2 separate regions of the Homo sapiens genome follow, and region 1 is linked to region 2. The links come from fine-mapping of genetic effects on plasma protein levels. A gene starts in region 2. The other region holds a variant in brackets. All regions are shown on one strand. Distances are between the middles of the regions. Region 1 overlaps NPDC1 (neural proliferation, differentiation and control 1). Region 2 holds the start of ENTPD2 (ectonucleoside triphosphate diphosphohydrolase 2).

The links. PIP is the posterior inclusion probability: the model's chance that the variant is causal. Protein levels are from antibody-based Olink assays in UK Biobank. Linkage for the fine-mapping came from a reference panel and not from the study's own genotypes, which makes the PIPs less certain.
Region 1: its variant is fine-mapped to the plasma level of the ENTPD2 protein (UK Biobank, PIP above 0.99).

The regions. Positions count from the first base shown.
Region 1 is chr9:137,033,502-137,045,173 of GRCh38, forward strand. It overlaps NPDC1 (neural proliferation, differentiation and control 1), which reads right to left. Exons shown (of 9, transcript NM_015392.4): 2 at 9,426-9,572; 3 at 7,561-7,686; 4 at 7,313-7,483; 5 at 7,170-7,236; 6 at 7,013-7,097; 7 at 6,856-6,935; 8 at 6,470-6,566; 9 at 5,962-6,363. The coding sequence ends at 6,271. It overlaps LINC02908 (long intergenic non-protein coding RNA 2908), which reads left to right. Exons shown (of 3, transcript NR_171031.1): 3 at 1,149-4,454. Among named protein-coding and RNA genes, the nearest start is that of NPDC1, 6.8 kb to the right of the region's middle. RefSeq lists enhancers at 1,137-1,336, 1,189-2,077, 2,078-2,964. The variant C/T (reference allele first, on the strand shown) is at 7,223.
Region 2 is chr9:137,051,301-137,061,531 of GRCh38, forward strand. It overlaps ENTPD2 (ectonucleoside triphosphate diphosphohydrolase 2), which reads right to left and starts at 2,761. Exons shown (of 9, transcript NM_203468.3): 1 at 2,581-2,761; 2 at 931-1,048; 3 at 210-360; 4 at 1-70. The coding sequence starts at 2,697. It overlaps LOC105376327 (a long non-coding RNA gene), which reads left to right and starts at 1,045. Exons shown (of 2, transcript XR_930455.2): 1 at 1,045-1,575; 2 at 1,710-2,075. RefSeq lists silencers at 2,747-2,816, 2,917-2,996.

The DNA.
Region 1 (11,672 bases), 17 kb before region 2:
CATGTTGGCCAGGCTGGTCTCAAACTCCTGACTTCAGGTGATCCACAAGTTTCAGCCTCCCAAAGTGTTGGGATTACAGGCATGAGCCACCGCGCCCAGCCAAGTTTGCTTTTTTGTGTGTGGGTTTTTGTTTTTTGTTTTTTGAGACAGGGTCTTGCTCTGTTGCCCAGGCTGGAGTGCAGTGGCGCAGTCACGGTTTGCTGCAGCCTCAACCTCCTGGGCTCAAGCAATGCTCCCACCTCAGCCTCCCAAGGAGCTGGGTCTATGGGTGTGCACTACCATGCCTGGTTAATTTTTTAAAATTTTTTGTAGAGGCAGAGTCTTGTTATGTTGTCCAGGCTAGTTTCAAACTCCTGGCTCAAGCAGTCCTCCCACCTCGGCCTCCCAAAATGCTGGGATGCTGGGAATGAGGACGCGTCTGTCCTGTCAGGTCTTTTGGGGGCTCAGATCGTGTGTCCTGGGAGGAATGGCAACCATGAACTGTTGTCCAGACCTTTGCCCCAGCACCCTCAGAGGGGGCCTGCCTCCCACCACCCCTGTCCCTGTCCTGTTCTACTTTTGGGCCCCAGGGGCTGCTGGCCTCTCCCCGGCCCCACAGTGAGGACAAGGCTGCCTTGGGAGGGGAACCAGGCAGCTGGAGACTGAAGTGGGAGGATCCCACTGTGGGGACAGAGGCAAGACTGGGACAGGGTGGTAGTCAGAGGCCCCCACCCCTGTGGCGCAGTGTAGCCTCTGAGCTGAGCTTTGCTGCGGAACTTGTGCAACGGCTGGAGGGAGGGGGGCTGGAGGGAGGGGGACTTGGAGGGAGGGGGCTTGGGAGGGGGGCTGGAGAGAGGGGGGTTTGGAGGGAGGGGGCTGGAGGGAGGGGAGCTTGGAGGGGAGCTTGGAGGGAGGGGGGTTTGGAGGGAGGGGTGCCTGTGGGCGCCACGGGAAACTGTCAGTGCCTGAGCTGCTTGGCTTAGGGGCTGGCACCAGAGTGGGCAGCTGCCTCCAGCCCCGCCTTTCCAGCCTCCCATGTTTTCGGTGATGACCACAGTGGCACCTGGGCCTTTAATCCCACCCCAGCGTTCCTCCTCTGGCAGGGGGCCCCCGGGGAGCCACACCTTGGCTTCAGCCTCACACCACCCCATCTCTTCTCCTTGAAACAGACACCCGGCGGCAGTTCCTGCAGGAAGGAGGCTGTCCTGCCACGCCTGCGGGTGACCCGGCCTCTGGTGCCAGAGCCTGCCATCCTTCCTGTTTGTGCTGCCAGGCTGGCAGGGTCCCTTGCCACCGACCTCAGCCGCAGCCACAGCCTGCTCCCTCCCTGGGTGGATTTGAAGGAGCCTCCCCCACCCTCCGCCCCTAGCTTGCTCCTTGAGGACCCTGGGCAGGGTGGCTGCCATGGGGCCCAATCGTGCGTGGGAACCTGCGAGCTGGCAAACGGGGCTCGGGGGTTTTGCCCAGAAATGGGTCAGAACGAAAGCCTCTCAGAGGAAAGAAAAGGGCATGAGTCAAAGAGAAAGTCGGGGGGCAGGGGCTCCCCCTCATCTCACCCCACCCAGGCCTCCTGACTCCCTGGGTTTGTGCGGACCCAGGCAGGCAGCCAACCCCAGCTCCGTGGTGTGTGAGCATCGTGATGATCAGGACACAAGCTCTTCCCCGCTGAGCCTTCACTGTGGGCCAGCTTCCCGGTGGATGCCCACTGAAGAGGCCTCAACCCAGTGGGCCCCACTCCAGACCAAGAGCAGACCATTGGCCAGCTGCCCCCTGCAGACAGCGGCACCCGGGGCAGCAGCAAGGTGAGGGGCACCCAGCCCCAGCCCCAGGGGCGTCTCAGGGAGCGGGCTGAGCCTGGCTGTCTTCCTGAGCCCCACCTGCTTCATGGGTTGGCTTGAGCAAGGCAGTCCAGATGCGTGTCTCGAGCGCTCCCTGGCGGCATGCTGCAAAGCTACATGGCTCCGGCAACAAGGAAGACTGCCCTTATTCTCAGTAACAGGTGGAGCTGGGGGCTGGAGAGCCCCTCGGACCTCGCCTTGGGAAAGCTGGGTGGGTGCACGGAGCCTGGCAGGTGGCCAAGGGGACCCCCAAGTGGAGGGATTGGTCGAGGGGCAGCACAGGGTGGTGCAGTGGGTGAGCTCAGCCCCTCCCCTCCAACTCTCATCCCATTGAGCCCCAAGGCGTGGGGGGATCACGTCTGTCCTTGTTCTCCTCCAGGTGGAGCTGCTGGGTGGGGCTCTGGTCCTCCAGGGACCCACTCTGCACCCCAAGTTTTGCCGGGACCCGCTCCTCTGTGTTGTGTGGCTGTAGGGGAGGGCTGCAGCCAGGGACTCTGAACCCGGGGCCGGCCCACCCAGCCACCCAGGGTGGGGAACAAGATCGCCTCCCAGGGCCAGAAGCTGGGGATGTCCTTGCTTCCTAGGATGTTGGCTAGGGGATCACACGCCCCACATTCTGGGTCAAGCATGGTCCTGCCCCAGCATCTTGCTGGGTTGGGGGCATCTCTGCACAGATGAGTGCCACCCCAGCGTCTCCGCCAGGGTCTGGGCATGTCACTCTTGGGCATCTGTGCTCAGGAGGTCACCAGGTGTGGGCAGGGCACCAAGCAGGGAGGTAGCCGAGGCTGGAAGATGCACATCAGTGCCCCGCTGGGCTTCCTCAAGTGGGAACTGGTGGAGGGGGCGCTAGGCTGCCGGGCCAGGGTCAGCAGGCTCAGGCCGGCTCAGGGCTCAGAGTTGAGCCAGAAACCAAGGTGAAATCTGCCTCTTACTGCCGCCAGGGCCCTTGGGACAGGGACAGGAACAGCAGAAGGTAAAGTGGAAAGGAATTGAGTAATGGGCCCCCAGGCAAGGCTGAGCCAGGCCCCAAGCCCAGGATTGGGGTCTCCAGAGTCCCTGGGGGCCCCAGGGCAGCTCACCCACAGCCTGGGGCCTATGGGAGCAAGGGGGCTCCTGATGGGTGGGGGCAGGAGCTTGGACAAAGTTGAAGGCCTTCTGTCTGAATTGGCCAGGGGCCAATGAAAGCCAAAAAGCTGGTGTGGTGGCTTATGCCTGTAATCCCACTTTGGGAGGCCAAGGCGGGTGGATCACCTGAGGTCAGGAGTTCGAGACCAGCCTGGTCAACATGGTGAAACCCCATCTCCACTAAAAATAGCTGGGCGTGGTGGCAGGCACCTGTATGTAATCCCAAATACTCGGGAGGCTGAGGCAGGAGAATCACTTGAACCTGGGAGATGGAGGTTGCAGAGAGCCAAGATCATATCACTGCACTCCAGCCTGGCTGACAGAGTGAGAATCTGTCTCAAAAAAAAAAAAAACAATTCCAAAAAGGCGAGTGGGGAGCAGGGTGCTAGGCTGCATGGGGGCCTATGCCCCCACCGGAGGACCTAGCCCCCTGCCAACCCTTCCCCAGCTCAGGCCCACCAGCTCCCTTCTCACACAGCTGCTCTGGGAGGGAGTCCTTCCTTGCCAATACCTAAGAGAATGGGCAGCAGGGACCCTGAGGACAGGTTGGGGACACCCAGAACAAGAAGAAGATGGGACACACTAGGAGGCTCTTGGGCCCCTGCGTCAGGCCAGCAGGATAGGTGTGTATTGTGACCTGAGGGACTGAACGTGGAGCTCCAGGGGAACCTCCCAGCCAGTGACACGCTGGCCTTGGGCCAGACGCTGCCCTGCGCCCTTGAGTGACGCTCGGGCCTCCCTGCACCCACCCGCTTTCCCTGTGGCTAATGGCTTAGAGTGAAGGATGGTGGGCGTGGGCGTGCCACGTGGGCTCAGCGTCCACCCTGCCCCATGCACGCAGGCACCCATCACACCAGGGCCCACACACAGGCTCCCATCACACCCTGCCCCATCACAGCAGTGCCCAGAGGGACATGGGGCTCCCAGCTGAGGGCCAGCCCAAGGTCACAGGTGAGGAGTGAGAGGTGAGAGGCAAGGGGGCTTCCTGGTCTGGGTGGGCTGTGGCCCCCAAAACATGTTGCTTAGGTCAAGCCAGTCTCCCCCAGCAGGGGTGAACAATTTTCCCCCAGCCTGCCTGGCCCACCCTTTCTCCAGGGACGGTGCCCAGTGGGCCTTATCTTCCCCATGCCAGGTGTGATGGTTAATACTGTCAATTTAATTGGATTGAAGGATACAAAGTATTGATGCTGGGTGTGTCTGAGAGGGTGTTGCCAAAAGAGATTAACACTAGAGTCAGTGGGCTGCGGAAGGCAGACCCACCCTTCATCTGGTGGGCACCATCTAATCAGCTGCCAGCGAATGTCAACCAGAAAAACGTGAAAAGGAGACGACAGGCCTCGCCTCCCAGCCTACATCTTTCTCCTGTGCTGGACGCTTCCTGCCCTCGAACATCGGACTCCAAGTTCAGCTTTGAGACTCGGGCTGGCTCTCCATGCTCCTCAGCTTGCAGACGGCCTATTGTGGGACCTTGTGATCGTGTGAGTTAATACTTAATAAACTCCCCTTCATATATATATGTATTTCTTTTTTTTTTTTTAACACAGTCTTGCTGTCTCTAGGCTGGAGTGCGGTGGTGCAATCTTGGCTCACTGCAACCTCCGCCTCCTGGGTTCAAGCGATTCTCCTGCCTCAGCCTCCAGATAGCTGGGACTACAGGCACACGCTGCCATGCTTGGCTAATTTCTTGTATTTTAGTAGAGACGGGGGTTTTACTGTGTTGCCCAGGCTGGTCTCGAACTCCTGAGCTCGGGCAATCCGCCCGCCTCAGCTTCCCAAAGTGCTGGGATTACAGGCATGAGCCACTGCACCTGGCCCCCCTCTCTCTCTCTCTCTATATATATATATCTCCTATTAGTTCTGTTTCTCTAAGAGAACCTGACTGGCCGTGTGTGGTGACTCACGCCTGTAATCCCAGCACTTTGGGAGACCGAGGTGGGCAGATCATCTGAGGTCGGGAATTCCAGACCAGCCTGGCCAACATGGAGAAACCTCGTCTCTACTAAAAATACAAAATTAGTCAGGTGTGGTGGCGCACACCTGCAATCCCAGCTACTCGGGAGGCTGAGGCAGGAGAATCGCTTGAACCTGAGAGGCGGAGGTTGCAGTGAGCCGAGATCACGCCATTGCACTCCAACCTGGGCAACAAGAGTGAAACTACGTCTCAAAAATAAATAAATAAATAAATAAATAAATAAATAAATAAATAAAAAGAGATCCCTGATTAATAACACGAACACGCCAGGGCTGTCTAGGTGCCTGGACCTCCAGACTCCTAACAACCACTGAGGGGCTTCTGAACCCAGTCCTCCTACGTCCCCAGCATCAGTGGGACAGAGAGTTTCAGCCCCCGCACGCTGACCTGGTACTGGCCTGATCTGGGCACTTTTGACCACATGATTCCCCTTCCTCCCTCGGGGCCTTCTTGCTCCAAATTTAGGAGTGGCCAAGTCCCAGCTCCAGGCGTCCAGGCCCCTCCCATCACACCCCTCACCTGGCCCCCTGGGTCCACCTGGCTCTGCATAGCTGGTATCACACAGGTACCTCTGCCTGCCATCCCTCCTCCGTGTGCTGCAGGGCCTGGCGGCCGTGGTCCCCATGAGAAACCCAGACTCAATGTCTGCATTGTTTTCCTTCTGCCTGGAGGTGGTGGGCACCCACATCCAGGTGCGTGTGGACTATCACCTGCTCCAGCCCTCTTTATCACACAGGATGGGGTCTTCCGGGCCGCAGAGCCAACCCTGGGCTGGCCCAGCCCTACACTACACCCTTCCCCTCTCCCACCTGCGTAGAAGGGTCTGCAGGGGTGAGGCCTGGCTGAGGAGGGTGGGGATGATCCCGTGGCCTCTCCTCCAGCTCCACGGGATGGGAAGGTCCTCCTAATGAGCGAACAGAAAGGCCTCCTCCCTCTGGGGGTGCAAGAGCAGACCCCAGGCCCCCCACTCAGGGGTCCGTCTACCAGGGCCCCAAATGGGAGATGAGGCGGTGGAAGATTAACCCAAGCTGGCAACACAGGCAGAAGCCGCAGGTCTGAAATGGACTTTAATTGGCTTTTGTCTCTAGAATTACCCACCCGTTCCTGCGCTCTACGGTTCTCCATGCCCCCTCCAGTTTGGGGGTCTAAACCGAACAGGAGAGGTGCAGGGGACCAGGAGGTGTCCTGGCACAAAGGTTCGGGGGTCTCCCTGGCAAGGGGTCCCAGGGCCTGGAGCCCGAGGCCCAGCCAAAAGCACACAGCATCAAAACATGTTTTTAGTGGGAAGCTCCAGGCCCTGCCCCTCCCCGGGGGCCTCGAGGTCGGGGAGCAGGTGGGCGTCTGTCTGCCTCCAGGTCATGGCAGTGCAGGCGGTGAGCTGGGGGCCGGCAGGGGCGCGGACAGTGCGGCGTGGTCGAACAGAGGGTTGCGCACCTCCATTTCCCCGGTCTGCGAATGTGGGTGTCAGGCTGGGCAGTGGGTGGGCTGGGGGGATACTTGCTGGGAGGGAACCCCAGGAGATGGTTCGCCCCTCCCTGCACCCTGAGGCACTCACCGGGGCCAGGCCCGGGCACTCGTACACCGTGAAGTCTCCGTCCTCATTCTCCTCATCCGAGGAGGCCGTGTCCAGCTCCTTGGGTGGCTCTTTATGCCTGGGTGGGGGGGGATCGCTGGGTCCTCCCCATGCCCTCGAGGTGCCAGTGGCCCAGTCTGGAAGTGGGCACTCAGCCCACCTCAGCCCTGGGGTGGCAGGGGAGCACAGCCCAGGGTGAAGTTGGCCAGGGGAGGTGAGGGTGCAGGGCGGCGGGGGAGGTGAAGGTTAGCGTGCAGGTGAGGGTGGCAGGGCCTGGGGTAAAGTTGGCCAGGGGAGGTGGAAATGGAGGTGGAGGTGGGGATGGGGGGTGGGTGGGTGGGGGTGGCAGTGCCGGGGCGGCCACTCACCGCTCCAGGCACAGCATCTGTTGCCGTTGGTGCTGGTAGTGGTACATCTCCGCGCTCTGTGCCAGCCGCTGGTCCCCAGGCTGTGGGAAGGAGGAGGCGAGGGTCAGTTGGCGGCCAGAGTTGGGCGGGAGCCTCAGGGCTGAAGGGGGCCACACACCGAGATCCGGGGAGCTGCAGGTGAGCCAGGGGCCTTCGCAGTGGCGTAGTCGGCCTTCTGAGTCAGGCGGATCTCACGCTGCAGCCTGTGGGGAGTGGGGCCTGAGACCTCTGAGCGTGTGGCACCCTCCCTGCCCTGCCCGCGGCCACTGGCTCACCTGCACCAGCAGAGGGAGGCTACGGAGAGGGCGGCTGCACCGGCCACACAGAA[C/T]GCCAGGATCAGCACTGCAGGAGGGGGCGTGTGAGGGCGGCCTTCTGCAGGGCGCCCTGCTGCCCCTGCCCACCCCCGACCAAGACCTACCAAGGGCGAGGCCGTCGCCTTGCCCTCCCCGGGGCTCCAGGGGCGACATGTGCACCGGGTCGGATGACACAGGGGAGCCCAGGGAGGTGTGGGGCGTGGGCGTGGGGGTTCCTGGAGTGGAGGGGAGGCCCAGCTCCAGCCCCTGCCCCCGTGCCGAGAAGCCCAGGGTGGCTGCGAGAGAGGACAGGTTAGAATGAGAGCACTGGGCTAGGGACAGGGCCGTGGGGCAGGGGAAGCGGGGGTCTCACCAGGCTCCGGGAGCCGCTGTCGGTCCTTGGGTAGGGGCGGAGTTGAGTGTCCAGACTCCTTCCGGGCAAGCTCCTGGGCCAGGAAGTCAATCTCATCTTCCAGTCTGGGCTGGGGCCGGCCCCCGCCTGGGGAGGGTGAGGGGCCATCAGGTGGAGGGGTCCGTCCAGGAGGTAGCCCCAGGCCCGGCCTCCCCGCTTCTGGCAGGTTCCTCCCAGGAGCCTGAGGACTGGGTACACGCCTGGAGGCCCTCTCCCTCCCAGATTGCCATGGTGACAGCGCGGGCGCTTCCTGTGAGGGGCAGTGCTTCCCGGAAAGTGGAGGCAGGGCAAGGGAGGAGGCGCTAGGGAAACGTCCAAAGACCGGGCACGGGGAGGAAGGAGTGGGGTCTCTCGCCCCAACCCATGTCCATAAAGGGCTGGCCAGCACAGCCCCTTCTGCTTCCCCACCTCCAAGCACCTTCTCGGGTAGAGGGGCAGGGACTCCCCAAGGAGTGGGGGGAAGCCGAAGGAAGCCAAGCACCCGGGACCCCTCCCCAGGTCATTGGGAGAACGGGGGCAGCTGTCAGGGGTGGGGCTGGTGGCAGGGCTCCACCGGTACCCACTGTGGGCTGCACAGTCTGGGTGGACGCTCCCAGGTTGGCAGGAGGTGCATCCACACAGACCCTTACAGCCACTTCTCGGTGCTCCTCTCAACACCTCCTCCAGGAAGCCGCTGCTGCTCCCACCCCCAGCACCTCTGAGCAAAGCCCTCACCACACCTGAAGTCACTCAGTGACTGGCCATCCCGACAGATGCGGCTCAGGCTGGCGAGCGGGGCATCCCCAGCACCCAGCCAGTGCTGGCACCCTTCAACATTTGCCAACAGGCGGACAGGACAGTGAGTGGTGGAAAAGAGCAAGCTGCCTGGGGACGGGGAAGTGGGGGCCTGGAGGGCTTCTGGGCAGACCCTGCAGAGCCCAGGCCCGGGGAGAATGGGCCCTTCCTCTCCCGTGGCCATCCCAGCATTTCACATCGTGCAGCCCTTCTCCTGGGAGGGCCTGACTGCCCCAGGCCTGGGCCCACCTCCATTTGGAAAGGATGGGAGGCTTCGTGGAGAGTGAATGAGGATCTCCCAGGCCTTGGACCCAACACCCCACAAGGTCCAGGGGCCCCAAGACCACCTGGCACAGGCCTGGGCATTGAGGCTGCAGGCTGCTGCTTTTTTTTTTTTGAGGCGGAGTCTCGCTCTGCCGCCCAGGCTGGAGTGCAGTGGCGCGATCTCGGCTCACTGCAAGCTCTGCCTCCCGGGTTCACGCCATTCTCCTGCCTTAGCTTCCCGAGTAGCTGGGACTACAGGCGCCCGCCGCCACGCCCGGCTAATTTTGTTTTTGTATTTTTAGTACAGATGGGGTTTCACCGTGTTAGCCAGGATGGTCTCGATCTCCTGACCTTATGATGTGCCCGCCTCGGCCTCCCAAAGTGCTGGGATTACAGGCGTGAGCCACTGCTCCCGGCCTTCTTTTTTTTTTTTTTTTTTTTTGAGACAGAGTCTCGCACTGTCGCCCAGGCTGGAGTGCAGTGGTGAATCGGCTCACTGCAAGCTCCGCCTCCCGGGTTAAAGCAATTCTCCTGCCTCAGCCTCCTGAGTAGCTGGGACTACAGGTGTGTGCCACCACACCCGGCTACTTTGTATTTTTAGTAGAGACGGGGTTTCACCATGTTGGCCAGGCTGGTCTTGAACTCCTGACCTCATGAGATCCAACAGCCTGGGCCTCCCACAGTGCTGGGATTACAGGCATGAGCCACCGCGCCCAGCCGGCCGCTTCTTACAGGGAGAGGTTCATGCAGGGACATCCCCCCATCGACTTCCCCCTTTGCTCTCGTACCTGGAGGCCGGCGCATCCTGGGCACACAGAGCCCTTGCTGGTCCTCCTGGAAGGGCTGAAGGCAGGGCCCACAGGCATGTGCACCAGGAGGACACCTTGCCCGCCTCTTCAGGGCACAGTCCAGGCTCCCGGGACAGGCGGCTACATCTGGGAAGGAAGCAGAAGGCAGGGCCGGCTCACGGCCCCGCAGGGCTCGGCCCCTGCACACGGCAGCGCTGCCCCAGCCACCCGCCCCCGTCACCCCCCGAGCTGGCCGGGCCTGGTTCTGGCCATTGTTCTGGACATGCCCTTCCTCCCTGACGCCAGGGCTCAGAACCCGGAAGCGAACAGTCCTAGGACTTATCAGAACTACCCTGCCCCACCCCTCCCCAGGGTCCACTTCCAGGCCTGATAGAGCCCTCAGCTCAGAAGCTGAGTCTCGCCGTCCAGGCAGTGCTGAGTTCTCCTGGGCAGGGCCGTGCAGCCCCACAAGCCCAGCCTCCGGCCTCAACATGCCCCACAGCAAGCCAGGAACCCCGTCCAGATTGGGAGTCCCAGAGGGAAGGGCCCAGGTCTGTCTCTGGGGAGCAGCAAACGATGCCGCCAGCGACCTCTCCTTCCCGTGCGGCTCTCCCCAGAACCCGGCACTGACAAGTGTGCAGCCTGGAAGGGATGCTGCTCCTCCAGCCTCTGGCTTGTCCCCCAGGCACCGAGGACACCTAAGATGGAGTCTGCTGACCTCACTGGCCTCAGACACAGAACCCAGGCAGGTCACTCCCAAAGCCACCACACCAGGGGCTGCAGTCAGGGGCCAGGTGGCACCCGAGGGCCTCAGGAGGCCGAGGTTGGCAGTGCTGGGGATGGCAGGCCAGGCCCTAGTTCCCTAGTTCCTAACCACACTTTCATCTCGCTGATGAGGGGCCCAGGCCACGGTGCCAGCTGACACATGTGGCTAATCAGTCTTATCCTGGTGCTGGAGAACGGGGCGAGGGGGCAATGGCCCTCTGCCTCAGTTTCCCCTCTGGGATATAGCTGAGTTGCCTCAAAGCTAAGGAATGTCCCCAGTCACAGCAAGCCAGTGGAGCCAGGGGAACCCCAGCAGGGCCATCAACCCTGCCTGGGGAGTCTGCGGTGGCACCTCTGGCTAACCAGGACTCTTCCTCTCTGCCCAGCCCCACACTGCACACTGCAGGCAGGGCCACGGGGGCCACACGGGGCATCATCCTTCTCCAGACCTTGGTTGGCTGGTTTGGTTTCCTTGGTAACCTGACACTCAGGGCCCTCAGGCTGTCCGCCTTCCTTCAAGGCAGTTCCAGCAGCCGCAGTGGCAGGTGGGCACAGGAGCCAACGCCAGGCACCGCACACCCTCCACAACCTGGGGCAGCAGCCTCCAGTATCAGTGGGCCGGGACTTGGGCACGTTAAACATTAAACCTGTGCCAGCAGGTCCACCTGGGCCCACCCGCCAACTTGGCACCTGGGGAGTGAGGCAGTCCCCGCTCCTGTGCTGATACCCCACCGTCCACCACGCCAAAGGCAGGGGCCTGAGGTACAAAGCTGGCTCTAGGGTCTGGGTTCCAGGCCCCTCCTAGCCCTTTTCCCCAGCCCAGGAGCCTCCATCCCCCACTTCCTCCTCCTGAAAAGAGGTCGCAGGAACAAGAGCAGCTGGACGGTGGCTGGCACACCCCCCTCCACCCGCCAACGTCTGGGCTGCCTGAGGGCCCTCCCTTCCAAGCACTGGGCACTGGGAATGGGAGGAGTTGCCTAGGGAGGGCCCTGCCAGGTCTCCCGGTGAGGCAGACACGAAGCTGCAGAGGCCGGTGAACTGAGGACTGGCACCTGCCACCCACCCGGGCTCAGCACAGCAGCTGCAGCCCCGTTTCCTGAATAGGTGGCCTCCGCCTTTCCTGGCTGAGCACACTCTGATTCTCGGAAGCCTCTCCTGTTCATGCCCACCTCCCATCCAGGGGCACTGAGCCCAGGAGGAAGCCGGCCTCACTCTGGCCCCTTGAGGCCACACACACAGAACCAGGCTGCCCAGGACAGCGCCTCAGCTGTGCCACAATCCACTTAACTTCTCCATGCCTCGGATTCCTTGCCTGTAAAACGGGCTCACAGCACCTCTTCTGCAGGGCTGCCAGGAGTACTGTACGAATGCAGTCGCAAAGTCTCCCAGTTCAGTCCCCCCAGAAAAACGTCAGCTTTGCATCCTGGGTTCCTGCAGGGAGCTCTGCTCTCTGGACCCTCAGGACCCATCTGTGCAGGTGAG
Region 2 (10,231 bases):
AAAGGGGTACTGGGTCAGTGTGTGAGTCACTGCCATGAGCACACTGGTCGAGGCCTCTGGATTGGTCAGGCTGCAAAACACAGAGAACTCCAAGAGGCCTTCTCCCCAGGTGGCTGTGAGCCTGCTGTAGGGGTGCTCGGAGTCCGCCCTGCAAGGGGTCACAGCCAAAGGCCATCATGGGGACAGGGCCAGGGCACAGGCACACTCACTTGAGCAGGCGCATACCCGCTGTGGCTCCCAGGTAGAGGGGTGTGCCCGCGTGTCTCTCTTTGGGCACATCCTGAAGCGCCTGTTCGAGGCATCCAACAAGACTCTGGCTGGCCCCAGAAGGGTTGTCTGCATAGCTGGAGATGCCCCCACCTAGAGGGAGGCAGAGAGATGAGCCTATGCCTCACGGGCAGCCCCTAGGTGGGCCGTAGGCCAGGAGAGTGAGGGTGGGGGTGGGGGCCGTGGGCTCCCAGACCAGGTGGCACACCTTCCCTGCTTAAGCCCCCAGAAACGCCCAGGTTGGAGACAAAGGGGCCCAGGTGCCACCCGGAGACCAAGGCTGCTGCCTGCTGAGAGGGTGTGGGTGCAGGTGCTAGGACAAAGCCCTGGGCATGGTCAACCCAGGTTGGCCTCCTGAGGCCTGCCTGGGTGTGTCCGCCAGGCCCCCAGACCTCCTCCTGCTCCATCTGGGGCACAGAAGCCAATACTGGGCCCGGCGAGGCTCAAACCTCCCCACCTGCTGCCTAGGCTTCCTTTCTAGAATGCAAACGACTCCTGGCCCCACTCAGGCGCAGGGGCACCAGCCTCTCTCTTTCCAGGGCTTCTGCCTGGAGTGAGCCCCACCCAACACTAAGCAGAAGGACCTGCACTGGCTAAGGCTGGAGAGGGTCCCAGAGACCCTGCAGTGAGTGGGCGTCCTGGCTGGGCTGGGCTGGGCCTCACCTGGAACATCACAGGAGCTGTGCTGGCCCACAATGCCTGTGTCGTTCTCCTTGTCTGCCGGCCACTTGTAGATAAACATGGACGTGTGTGAAGAACCAGCGTCCAGGACGATGCCATACTGCGGGGGAGGGGGAGGGAGTCAGCCTGGGGTGTCCGGGGGCCCTGACACCCTGACACCAAACGTGAAGTTGGGTTCCTCCAGTTTGCCACCGCTCCCCCCCCCACCCAGTCATGTGCCAAGCCTCATGCTGAAGCTCAGAGGAGGCCAGGGCCTCCTCTGAGGCCGTGGTTGGAAGGAGAACAGGGAGGTGGTGGGGAGGTGACTCTTCCCTCCTGACTACCTGAAGCCAGCATGCCAGGGTCTGGGCAGCAGCCTTCCTGGCAAGGGCAGACTGAGGGACTGAGTCAGGGACAGAGGGACAGAGGGTCCCCAGGGACTTTTCCCTGGGGCACAAGTTTCCCAGGCTCAGGGAGAGGAAGCTCCTCTGCAAGAGGAGCTCCCTAGAGTCCCTCTTCCTTCCTCCCCTCTTCCTTCCTCCTCTGTCTCCTTCCAGCTCCTCTGACGGCAGCCCAACCTGAGGATGCAGGAGGCAGGGCCCCAGGTGAAGAAGGTCCACCGAGGCTGGCCGTGGGCCTCAGAGCCAGGTCAGCTCTAAAGACACTCTCCCTAGGCCTCCAAGCCAGGGCCAGAGAGAGAGGCTGGCCCTGCCTTGTTGGGGGTGCTGGGTGGGCCTTCCTGCAGACCTGAGTGGCACGAGCTTGTAAATGCCCTTTTCCAGCTCCTGCCCCAGCATCCTGGATCCACCTGGAAAGCTGGGGACCAGCCTCCCAGGCCCGGGCGCCAATTCCAGCCTCCGAGAGGGCCGCACCAGTCCATCCCGACCAAGGCTTCCCCAGAGCCCAGAGCATCAACAGGTCAGCGCGTGCACCGCCACATGGCCGTCCTGCAGGGCCGCAGAGCTCCCTGCTTCTGACTCCCCATCAGGCTGGGGGACTTGGCTCTCCACCCCACCCCCCTACAAGCCCAATAAAGGGTTAAAGGGGCCGACCAGGAGGTCCCTGGGCCTGCTGGAGTGGAGATCCAGGCTAGCCTGCTCCAACCTTTTGAGGACCGGCCAGGGCTGCTCCGGTCAAGCCCTCCTGTCTTTCTGGGCCACTCTCGTGTCCTGGCGGGGGCCCTGGGTCCTGGGGCTTGTGGATCCCCATCTGGGCTGAATACCCAGTCGATGTGGCTCTAACCGCACCCTCCGGGGCGGCGGCACAGGGCAGAAGTGGCCCGGAGTGCCCCTGGGGGCCCGCACAGGCCTGGGGGCGGGCGTCCGGCAGCACCCAGGGGGCATCGCTGGGCTATCCCGGGAGCGGGGACACAGCCCCTGGGCTGCGTTGACGGACTCGGCGGCGGGCGCGGAACTCCCGGGACTTGTTCCTTCAGCACCGCGTCGCCCTGGAAGCGCCACCGCCCCCCGCCCCCTCCGCGTACCCGGTCGGGGAGCGCAGAGCGCGGAACCCGGGACCCCACCCAGCCCGCCAGGAGCAGAGCACGGTGGGGGTCCCGGGCTGATCCTGCTCAGGTTCCCAGCCGCACCCCCTCCCCGGCTCCAAGCCCGGCCCGCTGCTCCCCAGACGTGCGCTGGGTGCCCGGGCGCGCACCTTGAGGGCGGGCGGCTCCCGGACGTCGCGGGTGGGGACGCACAGCAGTAGGAGGCCGGCGAGGCCCGCGGCGGCCAGCAGCAGCGGCGGCAGCAGTGACCGCACCTTCCCGGCCATGGGCGGGCGGGCGCGCGGGAGGACGATGCGTGGACCCGGAGAGTGCGGGGAGCCGGAGGCGGAGGCGGGCGGGGCCGCGGGACCGCGGGGTAGGGGCCCCGGGGCGGGACGAGGGGCGGGAGGCCGGGCGGGCCCGCCCATCACCGGCCACGCCCACGGGCGGACAGGTTTCGCCTCCGCTCCCAAGCTTCCGCCGTCCGGCCCGCGCAGGTGAGAGACGCGGGCGCGGCTGAGTCACCAGCACCGCCCCCCGGCTCCCGGGTCTGAGCCCGGGCGCCCCGCGGCTATGGCCCACCTTCCCCTTCCCGCCCACTCAGCAAGGGGATCCCCCGGCCGTGGAGGCAGGAGACCTGGCGTGGGGGTGGGCGGGCGAGGCTGGCTCGGAGGGTCCTGTGCTGGAGAGCCGCGCTTTTCCCGGGCCCGGGAAAGGAGGCCAGACTCGCTTGCAGGAATGAGGCACTGTCGGCTGCGGAGCCACGCGGGGCCCGGGCTGGGGACTCAGGAGGAAGCCGAGGGTCAGCACCTGTTTGTGGAGCAGGGCCCTGAGCGCCAACTCCCAGGGCTGGTGAGGACCAGGCTGGCCTGCGGGATGCCCTCCCGGCCAGCAAGGATCCGCCAGCCTGCGGCGCTGAGCCAGCGCAGGTCAGCTCCAGAGACACGCAGCTGACCCAGGCCAGAACTACCCTTGAGGCCCAGTCAGATCCACCTCACCTGGGCCCTGTACTGAGGTGAAGGTGAGGACGCAGGAACGGGGAAGGGGAGGGACGGCCCAGGTCACACCGAGCCGAGAAACAGGAGAAGCAGCACAGACCGGGCCAAAGGTCCATACCTCCCAGCCCAGGGCCTCAGCCGCGCCTGCTGCCCCCTCGGCCTGAGGGGAACAGAGGCTTGGGCTGCGGAGGCCAGAGGAGGCTTCCCCAGGACGGAAACAGGTGGGGCCTCTACGTGGCCTGAAAGGCAAGGAAGAGGGTCCCCAGGCCAAGCTTGGGGTGCGGGTCAGCAACAGGCTTCTGGGGACGGCTGGGGCAGGCGAAGCGCAGCTGGCCCCAGACGCAAGCCCTGCTCCTCCGTCCCACGACATGGCTGGCCTTTCGGCTCTGCAGCCTCACAGGCCCCGCATCCCAGCCCGGCCAGGGGCCACCCCCTTTGCGCCTGCTGCAAAGTGGGAATTCTTGTCCCAATAATTCCAGCCACACAGCGTCAGGGAGCCACGAGGCAAGGCCACCAGGGAGTGCAGGCTGCTGGGGCCCAAAGGGCAGCCCCATGGGGCAGGGTCCAGACCATGCCCGGCCTTCTGGAACGGGCAGTGACAATTGTGCTGGGATTGCTGCCTGGGCTGAGGGTCTGGCGCCACAGGCCCAGTAAAGGCATCTTTCTTCCAGCTCAGGACCCCAAAGGGAGGGGTGGGAACCCTGGGAAGCCTCTCTGCTGCCTCAGCCTCACAGCCCAGCCTGGCGGGGCTCCAGCAGGCAATCTCTGGGTGTTGCCGGTGCTAAGCTCCAGGCCCCAGGCCCCAGTTTCCCCCCACACACCCCAGGCCTTTCTTCCACCCCTGACCGCCCAGAGGAGGGAGAGGCACGCACAGTGCACATCATGCCTGAAAAGGAAGGAACAAAGGCCGCCCAGAGGCAGGGTGCTGCGACCCCCACTGGCCTGCGGTACCCCGCTTCCCTCCAGGCCCAGCGGGGCTTCCTGGTGTTCTGGACTCTTTTCATGGACAAAAAGCTCAAGCCAGGGAGTGGGAGGTCTGCCAGGCCTGAGAGGATGGGGAGGGAGAGGGGAGCTGGACTCTGCCCCGGGGAGACAGGCTCATGGCCGAGTGCCCAGCTTCGCCTGCGGAGGGAGAGGCAGGGAGCCCAGAGCGGCCAGGACAAAGGCTGAGGCTGAGCTCTCTTTGAGACGGAGTGAGGGCGGGGGAACGCCCCTTCCTGGCATGGACTCAGGGACCCTGGAAGGCAGACTTGGGAGAGCGTCAGAGGGAAGCTGGCAGGAGCTGAAGGGGTGGAGGGGCCTCTGGGTGGGGCAGCTCTCGGCTTCCAGGACCCTCTCGGGGATGGGGCCTCCAGATGTGCTGCACATGACCCCGGCTGAGCTGGGAACATGCGGATGCAGAGAGGTTAGGGGAGAACCCCTGGGGGAGGGAACTCGGAGCCTCCCGCCCACGCAGGGCTCAGACCTCCCAGGGAGGGGGGCTTTCCTGAGGCCTGCTGACATCTTGGCTGCCCTGCCTCAGTCTCCACATCAGAAGCTTGTGCTGTGTGGCTCACGTCTGTAATTCCAGCACTTTGGGAAGCTGAGGCAGGTGGATCACTTAAGGTCAGGAGTTCAAGACCAGCCTGGCCAACATGGTGAAACGCCGTCTCTAATAGAAATACAAAAATTAGCCGGTTGTGGGCCGGGCGCGGTGGCTCACTCCTGTAATCCCAGCACTTTGGAAGGCTGAGGCGGGCGGATCATCAGGTCAGGAGATCAAGACCATCCTGGCTAACGCAGTGAAATGCCATCTCTACTAAAAATACAAAAAATTAGCCGGGCGTGGTGGCGGGCACCTGTAGTCCCAGCTACTCGGGAAGCTGAAGCAGGAGAATGGTGTGAACCCGGGAGGCGGAGCTTGCAGTGAGCCAAGATCGCGCCACTGCACTCCAGCCTGGGTGACAGAGCGAGTCAAAAAAAAAAAAAAAATTAGTCGGCTGTAGTGGCAGACACCTGTAATTCCAGCTATTTGGGAGGCTGAGGCAAGAGAATCGCTTGAACCTGGGAGGCAGAGGTTGCAGTGAGCTGAGACTGCACCACTGCACTCCAGCCTGGACGACAGAGCGAGATTCCATCTCAAAAGAAAAAAAAAAAAGAAACTTGTGCTGTGGCCGAAACACCTTGATGGTTTAATTGTGAAAGGCCTTTCACTCACTGCTCCCTTTCTGCAGGTGCTCATTAAGTCATTCAACAAACGCTTGCTGAGTAGTACTCCTGGGTGCCCAAAGCACGCCAGGCTCCATGCATGCACAGGGAGCCCTGTGGGGAGGGCACCCACTGGCCTGGGGAGAGCAGACTTTGCAAAGGCCCACGGGAGGCGGGGAAGCCTGTGCTGTCCTGTTCGAGGTCGGAGACACAACAGAATGGGAGGTGCACATATGCACAGTTGGTAAGAGCAATGCCAGGGTGGCAGCAGGACCCCATTGGTGGTCTCTGATGTGCTGGACGTGCTGTTCTGGGACTTGCTTCTTTCACTCACGTTACGCGTTTGGGATTCACCCTGTTGACACTGAGAGGTGTGGCTTGTTTGTTCCTTGCTGTATTCCATCCTGTGAGTGAGAACATGCAGACGGCGTGTCGCTGCAGCTGGTGAACACACAGTGTCTGGCTTTAGGCTTTGCTGAGATTGCTGCTCTGCACATATACACTCTTTTTTTTAATTTTATTTTTTATCTGAGGTGGAGTCTGGCCCTATCGCTCAGGCTGGAGTGCAGTGGCGCGATCTCAGCTCACTGCAACCTCCACCTCCTGGGTTCAAGCGATTTCCCGCCTCAGCCTCCTGAGCAACTCGGATTACAGGCGCCTATAACCATTCCCCACTAATTTTGTATTTTTAGTAGAGACAGGGTTTCACCATATTGGCCAGGCTGGTCTCAAACTCCTGACCTCAGGCGACCCGCCTGCCTCGGCCTCCCACAGTGCTGGGATGACAGGTGTGAGCCACCGCGCCCGGCCTCTCCGTCTGCGTCGGCCTCCCACAGTGCTGGGGTGACAGGTGTGAGCCGCTGCGCCGGCCGCATGTGTGCTCTTGAGAGCACTTCTCTGGGGAGCATCCCGGATCTGAACTGCTGGTTGTCAGGCAAGTGTGTGTTCTGCTTCTCTAGCAAGTGCCAAATTCTTTTCTGAACGATGGCTCTAGCTGGCACTGTGAGCATTTTATTTCATTTTATCTTATTTTATTTATTTACTTTGAGACAGACTCTTCCTCTGTTGCCCAGGCTGGAGTGCAGTGATGTGATCTCGGCTCACTGCAATCTCCGCCTCCTGGTTCAAGCAATTCTTCTGACTCAGCCTCCCAAATAGCTGGGACTACAGCCGTGTGCCACCAGGCTAATTTTTTTGCATTCTAATAGAGACGGGGTCTCACTGTGTTGCTCCCAGGCTGGTCTCAAACTCCTGAGCATCCGCCCATCTCGGCCTCCCAAAGTGCTAGGATTACAGGCATGAGCCACCGTGCCCAGCCTAATTTTTGTATGTTTAGTAGAGACGGGGTTTTGCCATGTTGGCCAGGCTGATCTCGAACTCCTGACCTCAAGTGATCCACCTGCCTTGGCCTCTCAAAGTGCTGAGATTATAGGCGTGAGCCACCAAACCCAGCCCCCCATCTCCTTTTATTGGAGACCGGGGCCTCACTATGTTGCCCAGGCTGGTAAATTCCTGGCCTCAAGCAGTCCTCCTGAGTAGCTGGGGACTAGAGGTGTGTGCCACACCCTGCCTGGCTTTGGCCTTCTTTGATTTTGAAACCGGCTCAATTGTCCCGTGGAACTGATGTTTATGGTTTCTTTGAATAAACACAGAAATTGATCCTCCTAGTCTTAAAATTTGAGAAAGTGACATTTGTCCTATTTGAGTTCCTTTCTCAGAAAACCAACCATGAGGCCCCCAGATAGAATGAAAGAGCTAAAACTCACCAGATCACGGTATCTTGACAATGAGACACCAGACCCCCCAGCTGTCAAGATTGCCTGGCCAACCACCAGCTTCCTGTTGACCAACTCCTCTTCTTCAGCTGCCCCTAATTCCTGTTTTCTCACACCTAGTTACGTGGCTTCCCTGCTCTATAAACCCCTAATTTCAGTGGGTCAGGGAGACGGATTTGAGACTGAGCACCCATCTCCTTGGCTGCGGCCGGCTTAAAGCCTTCCCCCTGGCGGTGCTCCTGGTCTCCGTGATTGGCTTTCTGTGCAGCGAACAGCAGGACCTGGACTGAACCCCTGGTGTTTTGGTAACAGTCTCTCCCCTCCCCTGCCACCTGCTGCCTCTTCCCTGTAAGTAGGTAACAGGCCTTTGGTTTGTTTGTTTTAGCAACAGGGTCTTGCTCTATTGCCCAGGCTGGACTGCAGTGGTGCAATCATAGCTCATTGTGGCCTCAAACTCTTGGCCTCGAATGGTCCTCCTGCCTCAGCCTCTGCAGTAGCTGGGACCACAGGTCCACACCATGGCTGGCTTCCCTTTGCCTTTTTTTTTTTTTTGAGACAAGGTGTTGCTGTGTCACTCAGGCTAGAGTACGGTGGCTCAATCTCAGCTCACTGCAACCTCTACCTCCCGTGCTCAAGGGATTCTTGTGCATCAGCCTCGTGAGTAGCTGGGACTACAGGCATGTGCCACCACACCCAGCTCATTTTTGTATTTTTAGTGGAGACGGGGTTTCCCCATGTTGGCCAGGCTGGTCTTAAACTCCTGGCCTCGGGTGATCCACCTTCCTCGGCCTCCCAGAGTGCTGGGATTACAGGTGTGAGCCACCGTGGCTGGCCTCCTCTATGGTTTTGATATCATGATGGTCTGACCTGTAATCCCAGTACTTTGGGAGACCGGCCTAGGCAACATTGTGAGACCTCGTCTCTACCAAAAACAAACAAACAAAAAAATTGCTTTAATTTTTTTTAAATTAGCGTAATATTTGGATTATCTGTTCCTGCAATTTATGGTAGAACTTGCCTGAAAAGGCCGGGTGCGGTGGCTCACGCCTGTAATCCCAGCACTTTGGGAGGCCGAGGCGGGCGGATCACGAGGTCAGGAGATTGAGACCATCCTGGCTAACACGGTGAAACCCCGTCTCTAGTAAAAATACAAAAAATTAGCCGGGCGTGGTGGTGGGCGCCTGTAGTCCCAGCTACTTGGGAGGCTGAGGCAGGAGAATGGCGTGAACCCAGGAGGAGGAGCTTGCAGTGAGCCGAGATCGAGCCAGTGCACTCCAGCCTGGGCGAAAGAGCGAGACTCTGTCTCAAAAAAAAAAAAAAAAAAACTTGCCTGAAAAAAAAAACACCTAGGCCCAATTTTTCTGTGGGAAGTTTTTTGTTTGTTTTGTCTTTAAGAGATGGGTTAGAGACCAGACTTACTATGTTGCCCAAGCTAGACTCAACCTCCTGAGCTTCAAAAATCCTCCCACCTCAGCCTCTGGAATAGCTGGGACTACAGGCATATGCCACTGTGCTGGCTTCTACAGTACTGTTTCCATTTCTTTGATAGTTACAGGGCCAGACCCCTATTAACTATTCTTCCTGAGCCAATTTTGTATTTTTTTCTTTTCTTTCTTTCTTTTTTGTTTTTTGAGATTTGTTATTATTATTTTTAGAGACAGGGACTCACTCTGTTGCCCAGGCTGGAGTGCCGTGGTGCAATCACAGGTCACGGCAACCTCCGTCTCCTGAGCTCACGTGATCCTCCCACTTCAGCCTCCCGAGTAGGTGGGACCACAGGGGCACATCACCACACACAGACAATTTTTTTATTTTTTGTAGAGGTGGAGGGTCTCCCTGTGTTGCCCAGGCTGGTTCCAAACTCCTGGGCTCGGGCAGTCCTCCCGCGTCAGCTTCCCAAAGTGCTGGGATTACAGGCGTAAGCCTGCCCATGTGGCTGATTTTGTATTTTTCTAGGAAGTTACCCACTCCAGCTGAATTGGCATAATCTCATTTAAAATATCCTCTTAGAATCAGCTTAACTTCTGCAGCATGTGTGACTATTTTGCTCTTTTTTATTCCTAATATCATTTATTTGTGCCTTATCTCTTTTTTCTTGATTAATTTAGCCAGAAATTTTGTGTACTTTTTCTCAACCAAGTTTCTGTCATGTTTGTTTCCTATTTTACTATTCTTTTCATGAAAGAGGAAAAGCTATTTATACCTTTATTGGTGTGTGTGTGTGTGTGTCTGTTTGAGACAAGGTCTCACGCTACCACCCAGGCGGGAGTGCAGTGATGTAATCTTGGCCCACAGCAGCCTCGACCTCCCAGGCTCAAGCAATCCTCCCACCTCCACCTCCTGAGTAGCTGGGACTACAGGCACGCGCCACCACACCGGCTAATTTTTAAATTTGACACATAAGTTGTTTAGACGTGTCTGCTTTAATATCCAAAAGTCTGGGCCGGGCGTGGTGGCTCACGCCTGTAATCCCAGCACTTTGGGAGGCTGAGACAGGCACATCATGAGGTCAGGAGATCGAGACCATCCTGGCTAACACGGTGAAACCCCGTCTCTACTAAAAATACAAAAAATTAGCCGGGTGTGGTGGCGGGCGCCTGTAGTCCCAGCTACTCAGGAGGCTGAGGCAGGAGAATGGCGTGAACCCAGGAGGTGGAGCTTGCAGTGAGCCAAGATCGCGCCACTGCACTGCAGCCTGGGCGACAGAGCGAGACTCCATCTCAAAAAAAAAAAAAAATTCCAAAAGTCTGGGCTTTCTCGAATTCTCTCTTTTCTTTCTTTTATTTATTTTGAGACAGGGTCTTGCTCTGTCACTCAGGCTGGAGTGCAGTGGCACAATCATAGCTCATGGTAACCTCAAA